4 linked regions of the Homo sapiens genome follow. The protein of the gene in region 3 purifies or fractionates together with the protein of the main gene of each other region. This does not show direct contact. Each region holds a gene or a part of one and is shown on either strand. Other genes may lie near its edges.

Evidence for each region.
Region 1: the proteins of LGALS8 (region 3) and SDCBP purify together in Homo sapiens (affinity purification with mass spectrometry; 4 studies listed by BioGRID and IntAct, with this or other methods). This does not show direct contact.
Region 2: the proteins of LGALS8 (region 3) and SLC17A5 purify together in Homo sapiens (affinity purification with mass spectrometry; 4 studies listed by BioGRID and IntAct, with this or other methods). This does not show direct contact.
Region 4: the proteins of LGALS8 (region 3) and ADCY6 purify together in Homo sapiens (affinity purification with mass spectrometry; 3 studies listed by BioGRID and IntAct, with this or other methods). This does not show direct contact.

Annotation. Positions count from the first base shown.
Region 1 is NC_000008.11:58,548,504-58,556,276, reverse strand, and holds the start of SDCBP (syntenin-1), read right to left. Parts: upstream 3,017-7,773; 5' UTR 2,974-3,016; intron 1-2,973. UniProt on the Homo sapiens protein: Multifunctional adapter protein involved in diverse array of functions including trafficking of transmembrane proteins, neuro and immunomodulation, exosome biogenesis, and tumorigenesis.
Region 2 is NC_000006.12:73,636,978-73,644,000, forward strand, and holds part of SLC17A5 (sialin), read right to left. Parts: intron 4,948-7,023; coding exon 4,714-4,947; intron 1,523-4,713; coding exon 1,435-1,522; intron 1-1,434. UniProt on the Homo sapiens protein: Multifunctional anion transporter that operates via two distinct transport mechanisms, namely proton-coupled anion cotransport and membrane potential-dependent anion transport.
Region 3 is NC_000001.11:236,519,642-236,527,004, reverse strand, and holds the start of LGALS8 (galectin-8), read right to left. Parts: upstream 3,024-7,363; 5' UTR 2,944-3,023; exon of another isoform or gene 2,497-2,943; intron 1,038-2,496; 5' UTR 935-1,037; coding exon 890-934; intron 1-889.
Region 4 is NC_000012.12:48,772,084-48,779,106, reverse strand, and holds part of ADCY6 (adenylate cyclase type 6), read left to right. Parts: intron 1-849; coding exon 850-999; intron 1,000-1,370; coding exon 1,371-1,492; intron 1,493-1,585; coding exon 1,586-1,697; intron 1,698-1,875; coding exon 1,876-2,003; intron 2,004-2,520; coding exon 2,521-2,679; intron 2,680-2,756; coding exon 2,757-2,898; intron 2,899-3,015; coding exon 3,016-3,144; intron 3,145-3,408; coding exon 3,409-3,434; intron 3,435-3,656; coding exon 3,657-3,804; intron 3,805-4,052; coding exon 4,053-4,150; intron 4,151-4,328; coding exon 4,329-4,416; intron 4,417-4,588; coding exon 4,589-4,705; intron 4,706-5,008; coding exon 5,009-5,167; intron 5,168-5,459; coding exon 5,460-5,638; intron 5,639-6,563; coding exon 6,564-6,599; intron 6,600-6,682; coding exon 6,683-6,812; intron 6,813-7,023. UniProt on the Homo sapiens protein: Catalyzes the formation of the signaling molecule cAMP downstream of G protein-coupled receptors. Functions in signaling cascades downstream of beta-adrenergic receptors in the heart and in vascular smooth muscle cells.

The sequences.
Region 1 (7,773 bases), on a different chromosome or scaffold from region 3:
TGCAAGGGATCTAGGTTAAACGCTCCTCGTGATATAGTTTCATCCTGAAGCCATCCACCTATCCCGTCCGTGGAAAAACTGTCTTCCATGAAACCAGTCCCTGGTGCCAAAAATGTCGGGAACCGCTGTATTAAAAACATCTTGGGATAATAAAAATTTAGGACGGCAGAATCATTGATTTTTTTAAAAAATTATATGACAGTTGATAAGCAATTAGTTGAATTCGAAGATGTTGCCTATTTCAACTACTGATATCTTCAAAACCAGGAAAATTTGGAGTGATAATTTGTTGAAGCAGTTATTAAAATTTCTAGTAAAGTTGTGTTTCATTATGTCTTTAATTTCACTTCTGCAAACTATTCATAAAATGAATGAAAAATGTAAAAAATAAAATTATCAGGCCAGGAACCGTATGGCTCATGCCTGTAATCCTAGCACTTTCAGAGGCTGAGACAGGAGGACTGCTTCAGCCCAGGAGTTCAAGACCAGCCTGAGCAAGATTCCATCTCTAAAAAAAAAAAAAACTAAAAAATGAAAAAATAAAGTGTCCATTGGACCCAGATAGTAAGCATTCCAGATGGCTCATACATGAGGTCTAGAAACACAATTTAATATATCCTAAGCAGTCTTCCAGAGCAATGTTTCTCAATCTGGCTAATCATCAGAGCCAAATTACCCGAGGCTCTAGTTATTATAAAAACAGCTTCCTGGGCAGACACAGATTTCACGGAAGGACTTAGGAACTCTTCTTTTTAATAAGTATCCTGGGGGTTTCTGATGATCAGCCATTAAGAAGTATGTCCATATGAAGTCCACTGTAATAGAATAATTAATCCTTACCCATAGGATTCCATTTCTCACCTGGCAAAAATCCAAAGTTTGACATTCTCTGACAGCAAGCCTTTGAGAAACACTCACATACTACTAATGGGAGCGTAAACTAGTACAATTACCATACAGAGTGGGTTTGCAGTTATCTTACCGAAATTCTAAATTCAGATACCCTCCAACTCTGCAGTATCACTTCAGGTCTCAAAACCTGAAGTGTAAAAATATATGTGCACAAAGGAAGCAACATATGTAAAAGTTGATTCACTGCAGCACTGAGTGTAACAGCAAAAGACTTGAAAGCTATATATGCTGATATTAGAAAAGCTCCAAAATATGATCACTAACTGGAAAAATAAGAGCAAAATGTGAAGCAGTATATAAAATGTTAACGTTTGTGTTAAAAGCAAGGAGGCAAATACAGCTTATATGTTTGCCTGTGTAGATATAAAATTTGCCTAGAATACCTAAGAAATGTAAAAAAGTTGCCTGCCTGCCAGAAGACTTGTTACTTTATACCTTTTTATGCTGCTTAAATTTTGAGACAAGTGACTGTTTACCTACTCAAAAACAATACATTTACAAAACATGTTGGCAGCACTTGAAAAGAAATTAATAAATGCTAACGTAACTATTGCTAAAAGTAGAAAGTATTTCAAAGTTATTTGGGGGCGCTTTTCTTTTTTAGAATCTCTTGGCATTTAATACCTATAAAAAGTTCCCAAATCTGGCAAAAACAGGGAAAATAGTTGTCACGCTCATTTTAAGAAACTCTTTAATTAAACAGTACATTTAACCGGCAACCATTAGCAAATTCTTCCCCTTTTGTTCATCTTTTTCCCCTTTTTACATCTTTTCCTATAATGCCCAAAACTAAAAGTTAATGTCTCCAAAGTTAAATTTAATTTATAATGGAGTGACTATTTACTGACCATTTTAAAAGTCATTCTACTTCTTTTTATTCTGTGCCACAAACCACTAGATTTATAATATTTATGTACCATTTAAGGCACAAATTTTATAGAATTAAGTTGGTAACACAGAAGACAAAAGGACGTATTTTCTACCGTTATCCCTCAATCTTAAACAGGAAAATAAAAAGACTGAACAAATTTGAGTTTTAACTAATCACATACACATTTAGAAATCAATTTAATTTAAAAGGCCCGCAGTTGTTTTTCAAGGTAAATTTCCTGCTTTAATCAACGATTTCTTTTTGAAACAAGCGGATGTTAAGAGTTTGGTAAGCCGAGCGTACTTTCTAAGCAATGTACGTAATGGAAAAGATAACAGTAAATGTGTATGTGGTTATACAGACTAGATAATCTACAAACTCCTTTCAAAAATGGACACATTAGAAGACTCCATGACTCAATAATCACCACTTTGGTAAAAGTGAAAACTTTCCACATCCATATGCCTTCCCTTTCCCATTATTACAAGGAAATCCTGAAAGGAAGGCTCTGAGTCATCATATCTCAGGGGTCAGATCTCAGGGGTATTTCCTTCTAAACACACCCTACTGGAAACGTTTCTCCCTCAGGTCCAACTTCTCCAGGAAAAAGCTCAAAGCGAACAACCTCTCCCCACCCCCTTCCAAAAAAGTCAAGGCTTCGCCCAATAAACAAACACTTCCTTCCTCCTTTCAAATCCAGGACTTTCCGAATAACCCAAAAGAAGGGCGATTAAGCACAGCCCTAGAAACGCCGAGCACTGGGAGGAACCGTGGCCAGAGGCTCTTTCTTATGTCGAGATCTTATCGAGGAGAAAACAAGGATCGAGAGACGGTCCCAGGAAGAACCCCAGAGCTGGGGCGGGGGCTGAAGGCGTTCACCCAGCCGGGCCTCCGGGCTCTGCCAGCCCCAGCCCCAGCCCCAGCCCCAGCCCCAGCCCGGGCAGGAACCCGAAACGCGCGGGGTCGCGGCAGGAAGAGCGCGCTGCTCCCGCAAACTTGCCCCCCCAGCCAGCAGGGCGCAGGGAGGGGCGCGGAGCCCCCTGAGGAGAGGGCGTCGCCGCTGCCTCGCGAAAACGGCTGCGACCAGGATGCAGTCTGTGAAGTGGCCCAGGGACCGTCACACCTCTGCCCCAAGTCCCCGCGCCCGGGACCTGGCACCGGCGTCCCTCCTTGCCCCCTTGGCCTCTCACCTAGCCCACAAGGAACCGCTCGCCGCCGCCGCCTCCGGTCACTGGCACGGACTTCTGAGGCCCGAGTGTAAGAGAGCGGTGCGCGCCCGAGGACCGCCCCCGAGGCGCGTCATGGCACCGCCCCCGCCTTCAGCCCGCGCAGTCGCACGGCGCCGGGTCGGGTGATCCCGTCCCCAAGGTAACGGGGCGGTAGGGGTAAAGAGGCCTGGGTGTGGGTCGTTCCTGCAGCTCCAGGTATCCGGCAAAGTGGGGCGGTTCATGCCGCCCGCTGTCCGCTGCCCGCTGCCCAGCGGTTATGCTCCCAGTCTTCTCCGCTCTTCGGCTGTTCGTGCCCGCGGGCCCCGTGCCACCCACTCACTACTGTGTGCATCGCAGCTCACGGTCGCTTGGTTCTCGTCGCCTCCAATTCAAAGAGGTCTCGGGAGCCCCTGTTCCCTCTTGGGATGCCTTCGACTTCCACCACTTGCTGCCCTAGTCTCACTCTCCGCTTGCTGTACCTCTCCACTATAGGCTCAGAAACGTTCCTCTCACGACCCCTTCTCAACTCCTGCTTTATTTTTCTGTTGGAAATTTGGATGTTGGGGGTGGGGGGCGTATTACTCTGTCCGCCTAAGCTAATATTCCTTCGCTATTGAGAGTTAGGTGTGGTGCTGCGCAAAAGTAATTGCTTCCCAGTAAAAAAACATAACGATCATTTCTTGAGGGCTGATTTTGTGCCAGCCATAGCTCTACGAACTTAATGTATAGTCTTATTTGGTCTTCACATCAGTCTATAAAGACATCCCATTACAGACAAAGAAACTGAGGCACAGTTTACCCAAGAGTAATCATAGTTACCACGGAATACTGTAGAGTCCTTGACAAAATAGCATTTACAAGCAGTTTATTTCTAGCTAAATTAGTGCCAGAATAATTTAATATATGGCAAAACTAATAAAAATCTGAGTGTAAAAGAGGTGACAACTAAAGATGAAAACTTTGCTCTCAGTAAGGTTATAGTTAGGCTGATGAAATGGACATTTAAAAATAATTACAAGGTAGATTGGGAAGGAAGAAATAAAACTTTTTGCTTTCAGATGAGATGGTTATCTAACATAGAAAATCCGGAAAAAATTGACACTCCTCGCCTAAAAAAACAGAATGAAAAGCAATTATAGCAAGTTTGCATGAGCAAGTTTAAAACAGGCTCATTCTAAGCCAAAATGCTTGGGACCAGAAATGTTTCCAATTTTGGATTTTTTTTTTTTTTGCTTTTGTAATATTTGCATTATATACTTATGGGTTTACCATCCCTACTCCAAAACTCAAAATGTTCCAGTGAACATTTCCCTTGGTCCTCATGTCAGCACTCAAAAAGTTTCATATTTTAGAGTAGTTCATATTTTGGATTTCTGTACTAGGAATAGTCGACCTGCATACATGGTCTGTTGTTTTCTTATATACCATCAATAAACAATTGGTATTTGAAATTAAAAACAATAACCACTGACATTAGCACCAAAATAAAATGAAATATTTAGGTATAAATCTAACAAAATATGTAAAAGGTTTATACAAGAAAAACTACAAAATTCTAAATAAAAAAAACTTCCAATGAGAAAAACTACAAAGTTCAAAGGAGATCTAAATAAATTTAAAGATATTCCATTTTCATGGATAGGAGTACTTGATATTTAACTGTCAGTTCTGCCCAACTTAATCTATAGATTTGATACAATCAAATCAAATCAATCAAAATCCCAGCAAGTTATTTTGTGGATATTAACTGATTCTCAAGTTTATATGGAAAAATGAAAGACCAGAAGAGCCAAACCAATACCAAAGGAGAGGAACAAAGTCAGAGGCCTAACAGTACCTTAGTTCAGGCTGTTGTAACAAATTGCCATAGATTGGGTGGCTTAAACGACAGAAATTTATTTCTCACATCTCTGAAGTCTGAGAAGCCCAAAATCAAGTTGCTGGCACATCTGGAAATCTGGTGAGGGCTCACTTTTGAGTGTGCAGATGGCATTCTTCCCATTGTATCCCCACATGGCAGAAAACAAGACAGATAAAGCACATTCTCTTCTATCTATTCTTATTAGGGCATTCATTTCATTACGAGGGCTCAACTCTCATGAGCTAATTATCTCTCAAAAACCTTGGGTCTAAATACCATCACATTGGAGATTAAGCCTCAACATATAAATTTTGGGGGGACACAAACATTCAGTCCATAGAAGTACTCAACTTCAAAATTTACTATAAAGCTATAGTAATCAAGAGAGCATGGTATTGACAAAAGAATAAACAAATAGATCAATGGAACAGAATACAAAGCACAGAACTTGACCCAAACAGATACATTTAACAGATCTTTGGCAAAGTAGCAAAGGACAGTCTTCTCAATAAATGGTGCTGGAACAACTGGACTTCCACATGTAAAAAAAAAAAATTGAATCTAGACATAGACTTAACACCCTTCACAAAAGTTAAATAAAAATGGATCATAGACTTAAATTTAAAAGCTAAACTATAAAACTGCCAGAAGATAACACAGGAGAAAATATAGGTGACCTCAGATTTGGCAAAAAGATTTCAGATGAAACAACAAATGCACAATGGAAGAAAAAGTTGACAAGTTGGGCTTTACTAAAATGAAAAACTTTTGCTTTGTAAAAGACAGTGTCAAGAGAATGAGAAGACAAGCTACAGACTGGGAGAAAATATTTGTAAAAAATATGTCTGATAAAGAATTTTGGCCAAGTGCAGTGGCTCACACCTGTAATCCCAGCACTTCGGAAGGCTTAGGTGGGAGGATTGCTTGAGCCAAGGAGTTTGAAACCAGCCTACGCAACATAGCAAGACCCTATTTCTAAACAAAAAATAAAATTAGCTGGATGTGGTGGCAGACACCTGTAGTCCCAGCTGCTTGGGAGGCTGAGGTGGGAAGATCACTTGAGCCCAGGAGTTTGAGGCCAGCCTGGGCAACATAGTGGGACCCTATCTCTATTTTATTTAAAAAAAATTGTGTTCAAAATGCGCAAAGAACAGTTAAACCTCAACAATAATAAAACAAGCCAATTAAAAATTGGACAAAAGATCTGAACAGACATTTCACCAAAGAAGATGGATATGGCAAATAACTATGTAAAAAGAAGCTCAACATCACGTAACATTAAGGAACTGCAAATTAAAACATCAATGAGATACCACTATACACCTATTAGAATGGCTAAAATCCAAAATACTGACAGTACCAAATGCAAACTAGAGTGAGAAACTCTCATTGCTGGTGGGAATGCAAAATGGTACAGCCACTTTGGAAGACAATTCAGAAGTTTCTTACAAAGCTAAACATAGTCTTGCCATATGAACCATGAATCATGTTCCTAGGTATTTACTCAAATTGGTTGAAAACTTATGTACACACAAAAGCTACACGTGAATATTTAAGGAGGCTTTATTCATAATTGCCAAAAATTGGAAACAAACAAGATGTCTTTCAATAGGTTAATGGAGAAACAAACTGTGGTACATCCATGCAACTGAATATTATTCAACAATAAAAAATGAGCTATCAAGCCTTAATAAGACACGGGAAAGTCAGTCACCTGTAGTCCCAGCTGCTAGAGAGGCTGAGGCAGGAGGGTCACTTGAGCTTCAGAGTTCAAGGCTGCAGTCTATGAATAGACACTCCACTCCAGCCTGGACAGCATAGTGAGACCTCATTTCTAAATTTAAAAAAAAAGGAGATTGATAAATGTATTTTTCTAAGTGAATAAGCCAGTCTAAAAAGACTACATATTGTATGGCTCCAACATTGTGACATTCTGGAAAAGGCAAAATTATAGTGACAATAAAAAGATGAATGATTGCCAGGGGTTTAGGGGAGATGCAGATGGGTGAGTAGGGGAAGCACAGGGGATTTGTATGGTAGTGAAGCTATTCTGTATGATACTATAATGATTGATACATAACATTATGCATTTGTCAAAAACCATAGGACTGTATGTGGTATAATAAATTATATACATAATATATAATATATAAAATTATATATATATACACACGTGTGTGTGTGTGTGTGTGTGTATATATATATAAAGTCTTTGTCTCTGGTTCCTAGTACAGAGATTCAAAAACCCATGGAATACCCTTAGTGATAGGGATGTCTTTGTTATGCTAATGAGGTAATTCGTGTCAGGGGAATGAGGAAGAGATGCCTTAAAAAGCTTCCGGATGGAGGCTTGTCACCAGAATCACTGAGCATGTGATTAGGATTAGAACTACTGAAAAGAGTAACATGATTAGATTTGCATTTGAAATGATTACTCTGGTTACTGCTTGGAGGATAAATTGGATGTGGGAATAAGTCTGGGATGTGGGGAGTTCTACTAGGAGACTGCCACAGTCGTCCTGATGTGACAATTATATTGAAGATGGAAAAAATAAAAAATTTAAAAAAGATTAGGTTAAAGAATCAGGAAGACTTCGTGGTTGGTGGGATGTGGATTAATTACAGGGACATGTCTAAAATGAGGACCAGGATTCTGGGATGAGGAACTATGTGGATGTTGGCACATTTGCTGAGATGGGGTTCACTAAGATGAGCAGATTTCGGAGATGGGAAGATTAGAAGATTGTCTTGGGATTTATTAAATTTGGAATAGCCTGTGAGTTACCAGTTGTGCTAGGCTGAATGATGCCCCCAGCAAAGATGTTCACATCCTAATCTGCAAAACTGTAAATATGTTACCTTATAGAGTAAAAGAAACTTTGCAGATGTGATTAAATTAAGCATTTTGATATGAGGAAATA
Region 2 (7,023 bases), on a different chromosome or scaffold from region 3:
GCTACTTGGGAGGTTGAGGTGGGACGATCGCTTCAGCTGTTGAGGCTGCAGTGAGGGGCGATTGTGCCACTGCCTTCCAGCCTGGAGTGAGACCCTGGCTCAAAAAAAAAAAAAAGGCTAAAATGTGGTCCCATAGAAACAAGATTAGAAAAAAGATATAGAGGTAGTATAACAGGACAAGCAAAGGAATGGAAGTAGTAAAGCAGAGAGTAGGCTTGGGAACTTCATTTGGGTAAAGGAAAGGAAAAGCAGATAAAGCTGGAAAAATAGGTTGGACAGTTGAACAGTTACTGAGTACCTACTCCATGCTAGGCACTATCTGCCAGAGATATAAGGCTAGCTGCAACAAAGTAGTGAAGACTGTAAAGAATCTTGCCCCTAGTTCAAGGAGTTTGGGATTTATTCAATAGGTAAAAGGGAACCTTAGATAGTACCTGTTCTTGAACCTATCATCAGATTTCTCATGTCAATCTCAACATAGCTGCAAGAATAATCTTCTTAAAATGTAATTGAATCATGCCTCTTAAAAAACAATCTACATTTTTTCCTGTAGCCTGTAAGACCTGATATAACCCGGCTCTTATCTCTTTCTCTAACCTCATCTTATGCCATCATCCTCCTTACTCACTGAGTTCTAGCCATCCAAGGTAGTTTTCCACTTCTTTTAACCCTTATGTTATTTCTTGCCTGAGTGCCCTCGTACATGCTGTTCTGATTGGCTGAAATGCTCTTCTCCCTGCATGAATGGTTTGTTCTTATCCTTCAGATTTTAGCTTAAAAGTACCACAGAGAGGCCTTTTCTCAACTACTGTATTTAAAAAGCAGTCCGGTGGAAAAATTTTAATTTAGTCAATGAAAGAAAGGCTAGAATTTCTTATGCAATCTGATAAAATTATAATTCACATATATAAAACTCATGTTATCTCACCTGTAGATCAAAATGATGGCAAATAAAGATGCAATAGAAAAAAGATGCATGAAGAGAGGGGTTGAGAATCATGATACATTCATTAGTTAATCAAAACAGAAATCACAATTTAAGGACAAAAACACTCAATTTTCTAGCTACTGGCCTTTTTTTTTCTTTTTTTTAAATAGCATCTCTAAACAAACAAAAATAAAATTTAAAACCCCCAAAAAAGTAAACAGAAAAAGAAAAAAAATAGCATCTCTATACCAATATCTGAAAACACAACATACTTTGAAATAGATGATGGCAGATGGGGAAAATGACATTAGTCAATTAAGCTGCATTACTATAAGTTGTTGAGCCAAAGAGAAAAATTGGTAATAAAGTTATACTACCGAAACTTAATGTTCTCCCCAAAGGGGCATCCAATCCAACATTGCATCGTTCTGGTATGCAGGCCCTTTTTCCCAAAGGTTGATATATACATAACATATTACAGCAAAATTTGGTAATTGTTATCTCACCTGCATATGAAATGCTAAGAAGTTTGCTTCTTTCAAGAGGGGGAGCCCAAGAAGACCACATGGCATGCATGGCTGGAAATGTAACACCCTGAGAGAAGGGAACATGATATTTCTGATGAAATGTAAGGTAGTTTTGTTAATGCTTTAAAGTAAGTTAAGTATTTTGCTACAAAAGCATTTTCTGGATAAGAATCAAACGAATCAGGTTCCATGAAATGAGAAATTTTTACAGTGTTAAGTGAAAATATCTTATAATGAAGTACTTTCAGAATTTGAGGCTGGGTGTGGTGGCTCATGCCTGTAATCCCAGCACTTTGGGAGGCCAAGGCAGGAGGATTGCTTGAGCCCAGGAGTTCGAGATCAGCCTGGGTAACGTAGTGAGACACCATCTCTTAAAAAAAAAAAGTAAAACTCCCCAAAGATTCATGGATTTTGGAACTGGTTTTAAGACAACAAGATAAGGGTTACAATAAATCTAAAATAATTGTACTGAGTGAGGACATAAAGGGATCTTGCTCAAGGTTAATTTTACTCATTCACTTTATTAATCACCTGAATGAAAGGGAATATTACTAACTTATAACTTTAAAAAATACTGAGCTAATATTTTGGGATACTGAAAAAAAATTCAAGCTGACAATCAACCAGAAAAACAGTCCTATTAAAAAAAGGATGAATTCAATTAGCATGTTTACAGCCTTTCTTCTTTTTTTTCCTGTGATAACAAGCCTAGTAGATGCCAATTACTGACACGGAGAGCTAACAGGATGTGGAAACAGGGAGTTTCATAGAGACTGGGTAAATGAGGAGATACCACAGGACAGTGAGAGAGAACGGCTCTCCTTGGACACTCTCTGTGTCACTTCAGAAAGATTAGTTAACCTCCCTGAACTTCAAGGCGGTTGCATAATTGTTGTAAAGATAAATGGTAACTAGTGCTATTATTAGTGGAGAGAAGAATAAATGTTTTAATACTTTGTACTTTCCGCTGACTCTTTCAAAAACAAAAACAAAAGGAATTAAAAAAAAGTAATACCAATGGAAGGCAAAGATGATTTAGGTACATTGCAAATCAATAAGAATCTATATGATGGAGCATCCACAGGATGAGTCATTATAGAAGAAAACTTGAGATGTTTGGAAATGCCCACAGAGATTATGTTGTAGAAAACTTTATTATAAAACCTAGGGACAATGTAGGTATATTTATGGTGAATCAGATGGTAGGAATGCAAGATAGTAATCTAAGTGTCCTTTATGAATGAGGAAATGCACCTGTGATACATATTGAAGGGATGAAGAAGGACGAGAGAACCTGAGTATAAATACAACTTAAATTCTATTTAGTTGTTGGCTGGACACGGTGGCTCATGCCTGTAATCCCAGCACTTTGGGAGGCGGAGGCAGGTGGATCACTTGATGCCAGAAGTTCGAGACCAGCCTGGCCAACATGGTGAAACCCCGCCTCTACTAAATATACAAAAATTAGCCAGGCATGGTGGCGCATGCCTGTAATCCCACCTACTTGGGAGGCTGAGGAAGGAGAATTGCTTGAACTCAGGAAGCGGAGGTTGCAGTGAGCCGAGATCATGCCACTGCACTCCAGCCTGGGCAACAGAGTGAGACTCCGTCTCAAAGACTAGAAAAAAATAAATAAATGAATAAATAAAATGTCACCTGAGATAACAGTGGTAATATGATCAATATGCCGTAATGTTAAATTAGTGGCATAAACTGGAAGTAAAATATGGGAATACATTCAGCAAGGAGATTGAATACTAGGATCAGAGAAAATATGCTAGATTTAAGTATATTTTACTTTGTCAAGAAGAACAGGAACCTGGTAATAGAGGAGTAATTTTAATTTTGTGATCAGGAAGGGTTTACTTAATGGACCTCTACTGATAAGAACAAAATAAAAACATTCAGATGAATGAAAAATCTTTTAATAGTACCTGGCAATTTCCAAAGTATTCTAGCAATCCTTATCACATATGAATTTTATATCTAATCTGTGACTGAAAACAGGGAAGGTATTTTAGTCCCAGTTTAAAAAATGATGGGACTGAGATCTAGAGATTAGAGCTTACCTAAGGTTTCACTGTTAGATACAATAGAGCTATTATTCAAACTCTGGTCCAGTGTTCATTCCAACAGCATGATACACTGCTACTTAAAATAATCTTCATCCTCTACACCAAGCCCAGTGGCCATTATCTTGCTTGAATTAAAGAAATGCAAGAGAGCAAAATACACCATTCCCTGGATTTCAGAGGTAGAAGTTCGAAGTTATAAAGGAAAAGTGAAAATTATTAAGTATGGGGGTACACATGATGAAATACAAAAGAAAAGTGGGAAGGAAAAGAAAGACAAGAATCAAAATTTTAAAAAATGATAAAACTATTAAGAGGAGGGAAATAAAAGAGGCAAAAATCAATAATACTTCTAAAAAGAGCAGAATCATAGAACTAAATTGAGATAGTTATATAAAATCATAAAATATTTGTCTCTAAGTTACAAGACCAGAAAAAATAAAAGAATAAGCGATAAAAAAGAAATTAAATGCAACTCAACAGTCTATTGTGTAAAATGTGCTTCAGACTTGGGCATCAATGATAGAGCAGAGTTTAACGGTGGCAAGAGCACAAGAGGTAAGGATGGTCAATCTTAACCATTTTTTTTTCTTTTGAGATGGAGACTTGCTGTCGTCCAGGCTGGAGTGCAGTGGCGCGATCTTGGCTCACTGCAACCTCTGCCTCCCGGGTTCAAGCAGTTCTCCCACTTCATCCTCCCGAGTAGCTGCAATTACAGGTGTGCACCACCATGCCCGGCTAATTTTTGTATTTTTAGTAGAGATGGGGTTTCACCTGTTGGCCAGGCTGGTCTCAAACTCCTAACCTCAAGTGATCCACCTACCTTGGCCTCCCAAAATGCTGGGATTACAGGCATGAGCCACCACGCCCGGACTATCTTAACCATTTATTAATGGTTTATTTTCTTCTCTCCTAAAGTATGAGCTATGAAGTCTCTTTTGGAAAAAAGTTTTCTCTGGTTTTTGAGTAAAGGTTCCAATTTCGGGGTGCTCCTACTAGAGACCTCATTTACCACAAACAAAATCTATTCAGGTAATTTTCTAGTTAGTCCTTTCTCTAAAAAATAAACCCCTGTTATCATCCAACGTTATTTTTTGGTTCATATTCATACCAAAGAATGACATCTTTAAGAAGAAGAGAAGGAGACACACGGTAAGAAGTAAAACAAGAGAGAAAAGAAAATTACCTCTCCTAGTCCTTCTAGTGCTCTGAGTACAATGAGTGGTCCAACTCCTAAATCTGCAGCAATGGGAGTGAACAGGGTGAGGACAGCAGTGCCAAGGATCCCAAATCCTAGCAGCATTTTCCCCCCTATTTTGCTGGCAACATATCCTCCAGGAATCTGTGTGATGATGTAGCCATAAAAAAAGGAACCGAGAATCCATCCTTGAGTTTCTGCATCCCATTGGTACTTCTTACCCTACAAAAATCAGAAAAGAATAAAACAATCCTTTAAGACCTTCACAGAGCAGCTCTTTTCTCTTACTGGCATGTAAGTACATATAAATGAGATTTTGAACCACTATTTTGGACTGAAGAACATGCAAACTTTCTAGTAGGTGGGTGAGTCATAACAATATAGATATACAGTATTTAGAAGTGAATGAAAAAGAACTGACAGTCGTAAACTTCAAGAAGGCTTGCAATTTTATAAAACTAGACTGCAGGATGAGCTGCCAGAAGCTTTATAATAACTATGACCAAGAAGGCTCACAAAAGAATCACAAAAAAGGCTTGGGTATCTCTGAGCCTACTATGGCTCGGGAGGCTGCCGCCCCCCCGGCCCTGCCTCCCCCTCCCAAAAAAAGAGTCACAGGCTTAATCCAGAAAGCTATTAAGCAGAAAACTGTAGTGGCTGAGCTAGGCTTTGGGAACCAGGCTTGGTTTTAATCCTAGCTCTATTACTTACCGAATGTGTGATCTGGGAAGAGGAAATGAAATAGGCACATAAAATAAGGCTTGATGTACAGTTAGTGTTCACTTAGTGCTGGCTATTAACATGCATAAATGTAGATATTAATAATATCTCCCCATTTCAGACGAAGCACTTAAACAAGCACATGGAACAATTCCAAAGAGCAAGAATTTAAATCAAGCCACAAACTTCATGTGAATAGAACCTGTGTTTTCATTAGTAACAGCACACAGCAAGGTACTAATGAAGATTTAGTGACTGATCTGAGTATCTGACATTTTTAATGCAGTGTAGCTGTATAACAAAGCCAACATGTCAAGAACCATTCCGGGATTTCTTTCTACTGCTGATATAAGGCAGATGAAGATAAGTAGCAGGGTCAACAAAAGCACTTTGCAAAGAAAAAGACACAAAGCAAACTCTTACTTTTCCTTATTTAGGGTACCAATTTGCAGTTTATCTGTGGAATTCTAGGATTTCATGTACATTCCAGCAGTATTGTCCCTGAAGGTCACAGGTTGGAGTGGAGAAAGTGAGTGATGTGTACCCAAATGTTACTCAGCAACATTATTAAAGTCAAATATAAAGATTTTCGGAGAGATTTATTTTGTTTAGAGAGAAACCCTCTTTCCTGCTTGAATGCTCTGCTTGTGAATGATAGAGGAGATTCATCTAAGTATGAACTAGTATCTTCGTGAGCACTGAAAATGGGTGAAAATTTATTTATTTATTTATTTATTTATTTTTAAATTTTTTTTTTGAGACGGAATCTCGCTGTGGCCCAGGCTGGAGTGCAGTGGCGCGATCTCGGCTCACTGCAGGCTCCACCCCTTGGGGTTCACACCATTCCCCCGCTTCAGCCTCCCGAGTAGCTGGGACCACAGGCGCCCACCACCTCGCCCGTCTAATTTTTTGTATTTTCAGTAGAGATGGGGTTTCACCATGTTAGCCAGGATGGTCTTGATCTCCTGACCTCGTGATCCATGTGCCTCGGCCTCCCAAAGTGCTGGGATTACAGGTGTGAGCCACCGCGCCCGGCCAAAAATTTATTATTTTTTATTTATTTATTTTTTTGAGACGAAGTCTTGCTCTTGTTGCCCAGGCTGGAGTGGAATGGCGTGATCTCGGCTCACTGCAAACTCCACCTCCCAGGTTCAAGCAATTCTCCTGCCTCAGCCTCCTGAGTAGCTGGGATTATAGGTGTGTGCTACCACGCCCAGCTAATTTTTGTATTTTTAGTAAAGACAGGGTTTCACCGTGTTGGCCAGGCTGGTCTCGAACTACTCACCTCAGGTGATCCACCTGCCTCAGCCTCCTAAAGTGCTGGGATTACAGGCATGAGTCACTGCACCCAGCCTGCAAATGTACTTCTAAAAAGAATACTAGCTTTTCTTTCTGTACTATCTCCTCGTGTGATAAGCAACATAAAATGAAGTATATATAACTTAATTATAAACAAATGATGAATACACATTTATTAATACCACTATAACATAAGGCAGGCAAAATGACTTATGTGGCTTAGGTTGGGCATGTGTACATTCAGAAAAGAATGTCCTAAGAAACTGGCCAGTTCTTGTT
Region 3 (7,363 bases):
ACTACCACTGAAAGGCTATTTCTCCTAAAACTGACTTTGCTTGATACAGCAGCGATACCTCATTCTTACACAATGACATTAAAACTTAGGGAAAAAGGAAATACAGCTATAAAGTAAATGACAAAAACTTGAACCCACACACACTAACAAAACTGGTTTAGGGCCTCATTTTAAGGATTCTCACCCTTCCTTTTGCCCAAGAATCTTCTAGGCGGTTTACTAAAAAAGTGGCTGTCCTTTTTCAGACCTCGATTCAGGATTCAGCTTCAGATACGTGGAAACTAGACATTCCTAAAGATTCTCACCACCACATAAAACTAAAACAAGCTCTTTACTGCTCAGGATTACAGGGCAATTTCCAGCAATTACAGTCATTCAGGGATTCTAGGACCTGCCTGAACTGCACGAGACCCTTACTACTTCACACTCTCCATCTCCCCATTGGCTTTTGACATTTTCCCTGCTCAAGGGCCAAGCAGTATTTGAAAGGCTGAGGGAAAGATCGAGACATTAACTTCTCATGGACAGCTCTAATTAAAAAAGAAAATGAAAAACTTGTAGAGTAAGAAATCCATTTTCCTTTAAAAACTACAATTTATGATTAGCTGAGCCTCCTCCCATCACCAAAAGTTGGCATTCCCTCCACTCTACCCAGACGTTCCCTGTTCATAACACTGTTTCATCACGTCATATTATCATTGTGACTTCTTCCTCCACTAGAGGACAAGAGCTGTTTTGTAATCAGCACCCACCACCATCTCTATTACATAGTAGGTGCTTTAAATATGTTCACTGGCTTTTATTCTTGCCCTGTCTCCCAATGGATAATTAATATTCTATTGGATCTGTCCTGGCATAGGTAAAAAGTTATCTTATAGAAATCAGTTACCGGGTTATAGATGATATTCTGTAGGTTGTTTAAGGACAACATCATTCTTTTCCAGCTTCTTGTCGATTGGAGTCTCTTCTGTGTATGACCTAAGATTTTAGGCAAGTTTCATTTAAAGGTTACCTGGATTGAAACTGAGGCACTGGCCCTGTGTAAAGTAAAAATAGAGGAAAAGAAAAGTAAGCATGTAGCATTTTTCTTCATATCCTATTTTAAAATTTAAATTATATATTATGTTACTGATATTTACCAAATAATAGAATATTATTACAATCAACGATCTGCCTCCCATTCTTACCAGTGTGCTCATATACTAAATAATTTTGGATTGTGAGTGTAGGAAATATTGACTTAAAAAATACATCAGTAGAAAATTTCTAACATGGAATTTATTATTAAAAATACTAAAATAGGCCAGGCATGGTGGCTCACACCTGTAATCCCAGCACTTTGGGAGGCCAAGGCGGGTGGATCACCTGAGGTTCAGGAGTTAGAGACCAGCCTGACCAATATGGTGAAATCCCATCCCTACTAAAAATACAAAAATTAGCCAGACGTAGTGGCATGCACCTGTAGTCCCAGCTACTCAGGAGGCTGAGACAGGAGAATTGCTTGAACCTGGGAGACGGAGGTTGAAGTGAGCCGAGATTGTGCCACTGCACTCCAGCCTGGGCAACAGAACGAGACTCCATCTCAAAAAAAAAAAAAAATTTAATTAATTAATGGTAAATACTAATCAAACAGTCCCGTACAATTACCAGAGGTATTCATTTAGATTTTCATTTCCATAAAATGAGAATTACAGTATTCACATCATTGGTTTGTTCTGAGGATTGAGTTAATAAAACAGCGAAAGAGTAAGCGCTATGTTAGCTATTATTATTGTGAATAGAAAGAATTGCTCTTCCTCCTCCAATTTAAACAAATCAAAGTAGGGAAAAATCCAATACTTTTAATACTATTAAGATACGGTTTTCTCTGTTGCTTAAAAAAATAATAATCACAGGGCAGGGGAGTGTTGGAAAGCATCAGCCACATTTTTTAAGATAAAAGCACTCATGGACACTACACTACATTTAATAGCTCCAGGAAAAACTCGACTTTAAGCAGAACTAAAGGGGAAATGAAACCAGAGCTTCCTGTATTTTACTTCCAGCAATTCTGTCATTATACTGCACACCAACAATACACACCGATCAAATCTATCACTTTTTCTTTATTAAGAAAAAAAACTGTATCCCTCTTGGTTTACCACCTAAATATAGCCCCATGTCATTAACTTAATTCGTTAGTCAAAACCTCAAAACTCTGGCTCCGTGACTCAATTCAGGAAGTAAGAACAAGAGCAAAAAGAATGGATGCCGAGTTGCCATACACATGTATAATAACAAGCCAGTGACCCAATTTAAGCCATCTGCTTGCATTAAATCACGCAACCCCCGAAGTATCCCCAGGGACAGGTCCCGCCAGCATGAACACTTCGTATGCATCACAAGCAGCCATCACTTAAGTTTCACGTACGGTCAAAGGAAGTCACATGACTTGCGCTTTGCAATGTTTAACACTGCAGTCAAATGACTCGGCATCCTAAAGAGCGTGTTAGAGGCAGGGAACGCAATGGAGGTCACTCCACTGTCACTACAAATTCCGGGAAGGAAACTTCCCCAGATTCCTCCACTTGGAGGTGGCGCTCGGCCTCAGGCTAGGAGGGAACAGGTGAGAAAGCAGCCCAGGTGGGGTGGGTTTGCAGCGAGGAGACACCCCAGGGCAAACAGCCTGACCCCAGCCAGGGATGTCCAAGAAAGGCCGCGACTCCTGATAATCCCTTATGCCCCGGAGCGCCTCGCCTGCAGAGGCAGCGTCCCCGCCACCCAGCCCCGGCTCTGCCGCGGTGAGGACCGGCGGGTCGGGGTGGACTGGACACTGTCCCACCCATCAAATGGTGATTTAGGAGCCGTGACATCCGAATGCCATCCTCCACTGGCGAGACCCTCAGAGCAGCCACGCCTCTAGCGACTGCCCCGCCACCCGAGGCCGGGGGTCGCGCGACTCACCCAAAGACTGGTGTTTCAGGCGCTCCACGGAGCAGGTTGTTTGTCAGCAGCTAAGTGCCGTCAGGGTTCCCGGCTCTGGCGTCCGTGGGCGGCTACGGGAAGCGACAGGAGTCAGTCCTCGTTCACTTCCCGGCTCGCGCGCCTCACTGCTGTGGTCTCCCCACCCTCCCCGCGCCCCGCCTTCTGTGTCTGGGGCGTCCCTGGCGGCTCTGCTGGGTTTTGGACAGGGACCCGCCGCTGATCGCCACCCAGCTCGGCCTCCTGCACAGCCTCTGGAGCCTTGGACCGCGACTGGCTTGCTGTGGGACGAGCACAGAGGGATAAGGACAAAGAATGTGTCCTGGGTGGATCTGGCTGCCTTTGCCCGGAAGGCGGAGTGGGGTGGGAGGTGGTAGGAAAATGGGAAGGAAAGAAAAGAAAGGTGGGCCGACGTCCACCTGGCTGTTCCAGGCCTCCAGGTCTAGGAGGGAGGGCGCTCGGGGCTGGGACTTTTCAGGACCAGGGTGGTCACCGCACAGGCCCCGCCTGCCTGGACCAAGCGCTGGCCTTCCCGGGGCGCCCAGGTCCACGGGGTCAACGCCAGGGTTTTCTCAGCTTCCTCGTCTGCCTCGGATCCAAGTCCAGACAGTGCCAGAAGAGACTTGGAGGCGCTGCTTTTTGACAGTACACACCTCTGTATGCAGGTGAAACGGTGGGGGAAGGGTTCAGTACGCTGGACTGTGCCCAGCCCAAGCTCCCCATCCGTTAGTGATAACTTGGACTCGCAGCCACTCCGCGTCACTCGCCAGTTATCCTGCGTGTGGGTGTTTTCTCCAAATTGGACACTTAGGGAACAGTTTAAGCAGTATGGAGCACAATTCTGTGCCTATTAGATGCTCTTAAATACCCGACTTCTCAGGGCCCTACACTGACTGATAGTTTGACCTATTGGCTGTAAACACACCAGCCAGAAATACAAATAAAGTTAAACAAAGTCATGTCAGCCACTTGGAATGGCTGGCTGCTTACTGTTTATTTTCTGTTAGGGACCTCAAAGTTCTCATCTTCTCTACTTGGCTTTTATCCACATTTGTTTGGAAAGATATATTTTAGTGTCATTAACGTGGGCTTTCTCCTCCCTGGCTTTTGTTTTCATTATTTTTTGTTTTAATTGAGGAATTCATTACAAGTCCCATAACTGGGAACTCATGTTCTGATTCACTGTTGCTTTTCTCTCCTCCTTACCCATTTTCCAAGCCTGATGCACTTCTCAAGATCCAATCTGAATAGGTGAATTTACCCTTGACATACACTGCCTTGGATTTATAGCTGTCTTTTGGTATGTGTTGTGTGTTTTATCTATCCAACTCGACTGTAGTTTGAGAAAAGGAACTTGTCTTATACAGTCTCCAGTGCATAGTGTAATGCTTTGCATAAAATAGATATCAATGTTAGGTTGAAATGTTAGATTATTGATAAAGTCAGGAGCAATTGAATATCTTCACAATTCTGCCTGAGTCTCCCCCCAGCCCCGCCACTTTGAGACAGGGTTTCCCTCAAGTGATCCTCCCACCTCAGCCCCAGGAGTAGCTGGGACTATAGACGCACACCACTATGCCCAGCTAATTTAAAAATTTTTTTTTGTAGAGACAGGGTCCACTGTGTTGCCCAGGCTGGTCTCAAACTCCTGGGCTCACAATATCTTCCTGCCTTGGCCTCCCACAATGCTGAAATTACAGGCATGAGACACCAAGCTGGGCCCTGAGTCAACCTTGTACTTCTTTACAAAGCTAAAATAAGTTGAAATAAGTACACATAAATGCTGTGTTTCTTTTGTAAGTCATATTTAGGTGCAAACGGGGCTGAGTGAAAGGGCCAGAGAGCAGAGTTAACAAAGAAAATCTGGATTAAAATGTTCATAAATCCTAAGAACTTATTCCTAGAAATATCTCCCTCATTTGGCACTGTTGTTCAATTAGCCCAGTGTGTTATTTTAAATAAGCAAATATTCACTGAATGCCTATCATGGCCAGGCACAGCAGTAAAGAATACTAGCATGCAAAGGACCTCATGGGCCCTTCTAGATAGAGTCCCACATCTCTTACATTATTACTGCAGTATCCTAATCGGTCTCCCTATATTTGCCCTTGCCCCTCTGCAATGTAGTCTCAACACAACAGCCAGAGAAGTCATGACAAAACATAATTCAGATCATGTTAATCCCTTACTAAAACCTACTTTTTTTTTTTTTTGAGGCAGTCTCACTCTGTTGCCCAGGTTGGAGTGGAGTACAGTGTTACATTCTCAGCTCACTGCAGCCTCTGCCTACCGTGTTCAAGTGATTCATGTGCCTCAGCCTCCTGAGTAGCTGGGACTACAGGTGCGCGCCACCATGCCCAGCTAAGTTTTGTATTTTTAGTAGAGATGAGGTTTCACCATGTTGCCCAGGCTAGTCTTGAACTCCTGACCTCAAGTGATCCGCCCGCCTCGGCCTCCTGTAACCTGGGATTGCAGGTGTGAGCCACTGCATCCGGCCAACCGTCTACTAATTTTTGCTCATTCTTTGAGTAAAGATCCAGTTCTTACACGAGCACTTCCTGATCTGCCCGAATCCTCACACACTGTGATTTCATCTCCTACTACTTTCCTTCTCACTTTTTCTGCAGCAGCCACAGCGACTTTGCTATTCTCCTAGCAGGCCTGTCACACTCCCATCCTAAAATCTTTACTCAATATTTCCTTTTCCCTTTTCAAGTCTACTCAAATGTCAGTTCTCAGTGGGGCCCTTCCTGACCACCAATATTTAAAATTGCAAACACTCTCCCAAAACACACTCATACACACTCCCTAGCAACTCTTCCTTGCTTTATTTCTGGCTAACATTTGTCATGCTAATATACTATATAAGGTGCCTTTTTATTTTATGTTACTTCACCCATCATAAGACTATAAACTCCATGAGGGCAAGGAGTTTTGATTGTTCTTGTTTCGAGGAAGCTTATACTCTAGTTGAGGACACATACAGTGATGTGTTTTAGAGAAGATTAAATTGGGAGCACCTGAGTGGCAACCTTAGTTGGGTGACAAGGAAAGTCTCTCAGAGGAGTCAAAGTTTAAGCTGCTGGTGAGTGAAAGAAAGGAAACAGCCATATGAAGATGGTGGGGAAGAGCATTCCAGCCTTAGCGAGCAGCTGCTGCAAAGTCCCTGAGGGTCTTGAGAATGCATTAAATGTGTTCAGGAAACAAAGGCCACCAACCAGTATGGCTGAAGCATGAGGGAAGAATGATATGACATCATGAGATTGGATGGCACCACCTAGGAGAGTAGTGGGAGAAAATCACCTCGGACAGCCCTGGGGAGATAAGACAACGCCAATAAATGAGACTGAGAAGGGACAACCAGGGGAATTTGCTGAGAGTGGTGTCACAGATGCCAAAGAAAGAGAAACAGCCTGTGTGCCAAGTGTGCTGAGAGGCCAAGGAGGACGGAAGTAAGCAATGGGCTTAGGAACATGGATGTCATTGCTGACTCTGACTCTGAAGTGTGTTGAGAAATGGGAGGTGAAGAACTGGTGGAAACCATGACTATAAAGATTTCAGAAAGGTTTGCTGTGAGGAGGAATGGAGAAGCAGCATTATAGCTGAGGAAGGAGTGGAGCAAAGGGCAGATTCAGGTTTTCTCCTGTTGTTTTTTTTTTTTTTTTAAAGAGAAGATACTACATTGGTGACTTTTAGACTTCTTTTTTTTCAAGTGACCTGCCATAAGAATTACATTTCCATTGAGACTTACTACACACATACTTAAAATTACGAAAACAAAAATTTTGACCAGGCACGTTGGCTCACTCCTGTAATCCCAGCACTTTGGGAAGCCGAGGCAGGTGGATCACTTGAGGTCAGGAGTTTGAGACCAGCCTGGCCAATATGGTGAAACCCTGTTTCTACTAAAAATACAATAATTAGCTGGGCCTTGTGGCGCATGCCTGTAATTTCAGCTACTCGGGAGGCTGAGGCATGAGAATCGCTTGAACCCAGAAGGCCGAGGTTGCAGTGAGCTGAGATTGTACCACTGTACTCCAGCCTGGGCAACAGAGTGAAACTGTGTCTAAAAAAAAAAAAAAAAAAAAAAAAAAATTGTACAAAACAATACTCCTGTTATGTGTAAAACAATCTACTTTTTCATTTTAAAAAAATGCTGCTTATAGTCCACTAAAATGTTTGCAAGCCCCACTAATGGGCTGTGAGCTGAAGTTTGAAGAACACTGGGTAGTATGTTGGTGTTAGCTCATACTGGCTTGTGACAGCCATTTTTGTACATAACTTCCATGTTGATACCTTGAAGTTATCCAGGGCAACTGCTAGAACTTAGGAACTTTTTCCCCCAAAGAACAAGATCTTAAACATTTACCAGCACGCTACTGACTTTACTCATGTGAATGAT
Region 4 (7,023 bases), on a different chromosome or scaffold from region 3:
AGTTCAAGACCAGCCTGACCAACATGGTGAAACCCCGTCTCTACTAAAAAAATATACAAAAATTAGCCAGTCATGGTGGCAGGTGGCTGTAATCCCAGCTACTCTGGAGGCTGAGGCAGGAGAATCGCTTGAACTGGGAGGCGGAGGTTGCAGTGAGCCGAGATCAGGCCACTGCACTCCAGTCTGGGTGACAGAGCAAGGCTCTGTCAAAAAAAAAAAAAAAAAAAAAAAAAATGTGTTATTCAGTGTATAGAAGACACCTACAGAATCCTGGCATATGGTAGGCAGCCAACAAACTAGCTACCATAATAATAATGACAATGGTGATTATTGTTACTAAGTTATGTCAAGTCAGGGAGAGGCTTTAGAGATCTTCTCATTCTTCCTCTTTGGGTTATAGATGAGCAAACCCAAGAGAGAGGAGGTGACTTGTCCTGGGTCACTCACAGGAGGATGTAGAGCTCAGGTCTCCTGGGTGCTGTCCTTAAGGAGGAGCACCTGCAAAAGGAGCAGCGTTTGTCTTTTGTGTGGGGTGTTTGAGGAGCAGGAGATACAGGGTGCTGGGGCTGGGCCCCATGACTTATCTGGCCCTAGTTGGTCTTCTGCTTCCAGAAGCTGTGAAAAGATCTCATTTCTAGTCATGGAGGATTCAGGCAGTTGGCTGGGATCTGGGGTCCTGTGGGTAATGGGAGAGATATATTGCAGGGGTGGCAGTGGCTTGGGGACAGACAGGGTGCAGGACCCTGGCTTCCTTCCTCAGAGAACCTAGCAAGTTGTGTGAATGTGTGTGTGTGTTTAGGGGGGCAGGCAGAGGAGATGGTCACTGTCTGCCTCTGCCACCTCCTGCAGCTCGGTGCCAATGTGCTGCTGTTCCTCTGCACCAACGTCATTGGCATCTGCACACACTATCCAGCAGAGGTGTCTCAGCGCCAGGCCTTTCAGGAGACCCGCGGTTACATCCAGGCCCGGCTCCACCTGCAGCATGAGAATCGGCAGCAGGTGGGGCTGCTCCCCGTGACCAGGGCCTGCCCCCACCTTACCCCCAAATAACTTGCACATTGGATCTGCTGCCTTGTCCAGTTCCGTGCAGCACAGTGTGATGGTTCCCCTGGGTTGTGCGTCACAGAGGCCCTGTGATACTGGGGTTTTGTCCTGTCCAAGGGAAGGAGGGCGTAGACAGGAGCACATCTGGGGGCTCAATGGAGGGTGGTCAGAGGGGGCTCTGATGGGGGAAGGTCAGGCCACAGTCCAGAAGGGAAGGTCAGGTCTTCAGAGAAGTCTAGGAGGGCTCTGGCGATGTGGAGAGACCAGGAGGGATTGCAATGTGAGACCAAGAGTATAGTGATGCCCTATTGGAACCACTGGGCTAGGAGCGGCTGCTGCTGTCGGTATTGCCCCAGCACGTTGCCATGGAGATGAAAGAAGACATCAACACAAAAAAAGAAGACATGATGTTCCACAAGATCTACATACAGAAGCATGACAATGTCAGGTAGGGTGAGGGTAGGAGGATGCCCAGCAGGGCGGGGGGTCTGGAAGTCTTTGAGGGCTATGTGTTCTGTTCATCCTCTGCTGTCATCTACAGCATCCTGTTTGCAGACATTGAGGGCTTCACCAGCCTGGCATCCCAGTGCACTGCGCAGGAGCTGGTCATGACCCTGAATGAGCTCTTTGCCCGGTTTGACAAGCTGGCTGCGGTGAGGGTGCTGGGCCTTGGGATTGGGCCTGGGTGTTGACCGTGGTGAGAGCATAGCTTTGCTGGCAGCAGCTGGGGATTTGAGGGCAGATAGAGTATGCGTGGAGGGTGGTGGGCCATGCAGGCTGGGTGGGCAAGAGAGTAAAGGTTACCCTTCCCTCCAATTCCTTCCCATTCAGGAGAATCACTGCCTGAGGATCAAGATCTTGGGGGACTGTTACTACTGTGTGTCAGGGCTGCCGGAGGCCCGGGCCGACCATGCCCACTGCTGTGTGGAGATGGGGGTAGACATGATTGAGGCCATCTCGTAAGCAGTGCCCCATTCCTAGGCTTCCTGGAATTGCGGGTGCCCCAGACTGCTCCTACTTTTTGATGAGACCTCAGGAGATTTCCTCAGTTTTGGCTTTCTCTGTCTTTGAGGTCTGTCTGTCACTGGGAAGGGGAATCTTTCTCCAACCTGTGCAAAGACCCATGCGGACCCCTAGACTCCCAGCCAGCCGAGATGGGGCCGGGAGAGCCTATGCAGTAGGGGAGTTGGGCTAGAGGGAATGCCATCTGTGCAGGCCAGAGGGGATAACAGTGATTCCTCTTCTCCTAGCTCAGTTCCATAAGATGCTGCTGGGCCCCTGCTGTTGAACACAGCCTTAACATTTGTCCTTGAGCCCCATGCAGCCTTCTGCTCATGTCCAACCAAGGCTGTGCTCCCGTCCCCTGCATCTGGGTCTGTCCTTGCCCGCTGGGCCCTGAGAGGAGTGAAGGGCCTGGGTTGTGGGCTGGGGGAGGGGAAGACTGCCAGGAGCTGATCTGGGGCTGCATCCTCCCAGGCTGGTACGTGAGGTGACAGGTGTGAATGTGAACATGCGCGTGGGCATCCACAGCGGGCGCGTGCACTGCGGCGTCCTTGGCTTGCGGAAATGGCAGTTCGATGTGTGGTCCAATGATGTGACCCTGGCCAACCACATGGAGGCAGGAGGCCGGGCTGGGTGAGTAGGGGGGTCCAGGTGGGGGGGATGGGGGCAAGGTGGGAGAGCCAGGGTCTCACCCTCTTGGCCACATACAGCCGCATCCACATCACTCGGGCAACACTGCAGTACCTGAACGGGGACTACGAGGTGGAGCCAGGCCGTGGTGGCGAGCGCAACGCGTACCTCAAGGAGCAGCACATTGAGACTTTCCTCATCCTGGGCGCCAGCCAGAAACGGGTCAGGGCCAGGGCAGGGCTGGGGGCAGGGGAGCAAGAAGAGGGACAAATGGGGAGGAGCAGGCCAAGGCCTCCTCTGGGCCCCTCTTCTGAGCCTGTACCCATGCTGCCCGCACAGAAAGAGGAGAAGGCCATGCTGGCCAAGCTGCAGCGGACTCGGGCCAACTCCATGGAAGGGCTGATGCCGCGCTGGGTTCCTGATCGTGCCTTCTCCCGGACCAAGGACTCCAAGGCCTTCCGCCAGATGGTGAGGGGCCCTCAGCACCAGACCTAGGGCCTCATTTTCTTAGCTCCCTCAATACCCTGTCCCTGACCCTGTCCTTTCTTGTGACTGCCATTTCCATGTATGCTTTCTGGTATTGGGGCAGTGAGAAGATTTCATCTCGGGTCCCAGTGCCCCCAGAGGATATGACGGGGACACCCTCAGCACAGTGTTGGGGTGGGGGAAGGAGCTGCAGAGATGAAGGTTGTTGGCCCTTCACCTCACTCCACACTCTGTCCCTTTCTCCAGGGCATTGATGATTCCAGCAAAGACAAGTAAGTCAGGTTACTGAGGAGGGAGAAGGCACTTGCACCCTGGGATGGGGCTGGGGGGAGCCGAGATCCTCCTTTTCCCTGACCTTAGGAGTGTTGTGTGGGAGCAGGAGCCACCCCCCTGGCTCTCCCTCCCTCCCTCAGGTGCTGTCCATACCTTTCCTTTCATTGTTTCTCACATGGCCATGCCCATGCAACTGGTGAAACCATGTCTCCTGCCCTCAGCCGGGGCACCCAAGATGCCCTGAACCCTGAGGATGAGGTGGATGAGTTCCTGAGCCGTGCCATCGATGCCCGCAGCATTGATCAGCTGCGGAAGGACCATGTGCGCCGGTTTCTGCTCACCTTCCAGAGAGAGGATCTTGAGAAGAAGGTTTGAGGGATACAGGGCAGAAGGACAAGGGCTGGGGGAGGGGCAGGTCGCAGCAGGGAAGGCTGAGCACAGGTGAGGGCACAGGTGTTTCTGGGGGATGGAGAAGGGACCACAGAGCAGGGTGAGGATTTCATCAGTTGAGCCAACTGCATCTCCTCCCTGTTGAGACCCCTGGTAGTGCCCTGTCCTTGCTGTCCCTGCCTTCCTTAGGGAGGGCCCAGCACTCAGCTCAGCCTCCTCTCCCTCAGTACTCCCGGAAGGTGGATCCCCGCTTCGGAGCCTACGTTGCCTGTGCCCTGTTGGTCTTCTGCTTCATCTGCTTCATCCAGCTTCTCATCTTCCCACAGTGAGAGCCCTGCCTTTCCTCTCTTAGCTTCTCTCTTCACCACTTCCCAGAAGCTTCCTAAATACCCACACAAGCCCACAATCCCTGGAGCCTGCATCCCTGCTTGTTCCAGAGGGTGGGACAAGAATGCCCAGATCTTCCAGAATTAAATGATTTTTCTGGCCCTGTTCTGCCCCAGCTCCACCCTGATGCTTGGGATCTATGCCAGCATCTTCCTGCTGCTGCTAATCACCGTGCTGATCTGTGCTGTGTACTCCTGTGGTTCTGTACGTAAGGGGATTTCTGAGGCTGTTGGGGAGGGCAGGCTGGACTCCAGACAGGGAGGAGGTCACATGGGGAGAGGGAGAAGGCCATGCCTCTTCCACTGGGCCCCATCCCTGGTTGCCATTCCTCCTTGGCTGATACAACCTTCAACTCTTGGTCTCTTGATGCCTCTAGCTGTTCCCTAAGGCCCTGCAACGTCTGTCCCGCAGCATTGTCCGCTCACGGGCACATAGCACCGCAGTTGGCATCTTTTCCGTCCTGCTTGTGTTTACTTCTGCCATTGCCAACATGGTAAGGGTCCAGTGGGAATTCTCCCACCTCTGCTCTGTGCCAAGCACTGTCCTGGACACTGGGAGTACAGCGGAGAAAAGGACATATTTTCTGCCCTCAGGGAGCCCCCTCCCAGAATAGGGGAAGGTTAACTCCGGTTCTCCTTCCTTGTTCTCCCAACCTCTTGTCATCCCTGAGTGAGTACTAAGGCCCATGGGGTATAAGGTACCTGGGCATAGCCCAGGTTAGGGTACATGGCTTCACCAGGTACCTTGCAACCCTTTCCCTCCTTGGTTACCCTGATATACCCCTCCACTTTTGCAGTTCACCTGTAACCACACCCCCATACGGAGCTGTGCAGCCCGGATGCTGAATTTAACACCTGCTGACATCACTGCCTGCCACCTGCAGCAGCTCAATTACTCTCTGGGCCTGGATGCTCCCCTGTGTGAGGGCACCATGCCCACCTGCAGCTTTCCTGAGGTGTTCGAGCAGTGCTCAGGCGGTGGGGGGGCTGTCCTGGCACAGACATTGGCCCTTCTGTGCCAGGCCTGGTGATGGGCGCTGGGGACCCAGGAACTCACCAGAGTCTCCCACACTAGGAGCAACCAGGGGCCCTGGTGTGTTGTAGGGGCTGGGCATGGAAGGTGGAGGATATGGGGGTTTGAGGGGTGTGGTGGGAAGGTTAGGTCAGGCAGGAGAGTGCAGGGCTCTCCCTGCCCAAGGGTGCTGTGGCCTCTGCCTTCACCCAACGCTGCCTCTGCCACCCCCGCAGTACTTCATCGGGAACATGCTGCTGAGTCTCTTGGCCAGCTCTGTCTTCCTGCACATCAGCAGCATCGGGAAGTTGGCCATGATCTTTGTCTTGGGGCTCATCTATTTGGTGCTGCTTCTGCTGGGTCCCCCAGCCACCATCTTTGACAACTATGACCTACTGCTTGGCGTCCATGGCTTGTGAGTTTATTCTCAGGTCCTTTAATACCCCAGGAGCTTCCCTCACCTTTCTAGGTCACTGTGAGCCTCTCTGGTGCCCATGCCCCTTGTGCCTTGGAATGCCACAACACCCCTGTGGGGGAAAGGGAGGAGATGGAGGAGCTCCCAGCATGTGACCCCAAATAGTTACCCCCAAGGAAACCCTAGTCCTGGGAAATCCTTGTGTCTTTAGGCTAGACATTAAAAAAAAAAATTCCCTCTTACATTTGCATGGTGCTTTCACATCCACCATCTTAACCACCTATAGGACATACAGCTGCTTGGTGGCAGGGCTCTGGTTAGGAACCAAAGCTTCTGATTCCTGCTTGGGGGCTTTGCCTGGGACACCACACTGGCTTTTCCTCTGCAAAACCCCATTCCTTTGATATGTGGCCATAGCTTGTTGTAGTAGAAAAAGCCTCTGGTCTCTGCTGGGTTTGAATCCCTGCTCTGCTGCTCATTAGCTGTGTGACTTTAGACAGGTGAGTTAGCTTCTCTGAGCCTCAATTTCTTCATCTGTAAAATGGCAATGTCACCTAAATCACAGGGTAGTTGTAAAGATTATAGTAACTAACATTTATGGAAGGCTGACTATATGGCAGGCACTGTGCTAAGCCTTTTACATACATTATTTAGATCTGATCCCTGTTGTACTGATGAGGAAGGAGGCTTAGAGAGTTAAGCGACTTGTCTCAGGTCACATAGCTGGTAAGTAGAGGAGTCTCTAAGAGCAGAGGTTTTCTTAACCTCTACTCTTAATGAGTTAATTAATGTAAGTAAAAGCCCTGGCCCAATGCCTGACTTACAGTATGTGCTCAGTAAATGCAGTCTCTTGTCTCCCCTTCCATGTGCCCACCCAGCAATCCAGGAAGCACTGATGACTTTGTCTCTTCTATCTTCTTACCAGGGCTTCTTCCAATGAGACCTTTGATGGGCTGGACTGGTAAGTGAGGGCTCCGAGGCAGCAAAGGGTAGAGCCATTAGATGCCTCCTTCAGACACCAAGCATGTCTCTGCTTATCCTTAGTCCAGCTGCAGGGAGGGTGGCCCTCAAATATATGACCCCTGTGATTCTGCTGGTGTTTGCGCTGGCGCTGTATCTGCATGCTCAGCAGGTGGAGTCGACTGCCCGCCTAGACTTCCTCTGGAAACTACAGGTGACTGTGTGGGCCTTTGGGGGAAGAGGAGGAACCTAGGGGCGGAGCCTGGGCCAGGCCAGAAATGTATCTTGTGCTAGCTGGCTAAGGCTCAGGCCACACCTAGGCCCACCCTGGTTCCATTCCTTCTCTGTGCCCATCCCTTACTCCCTGCCCCATCCTCTACCTGCCCCCTTTACCCCTTTGCCTGTTCTTTAGGCCTCATCTGTCT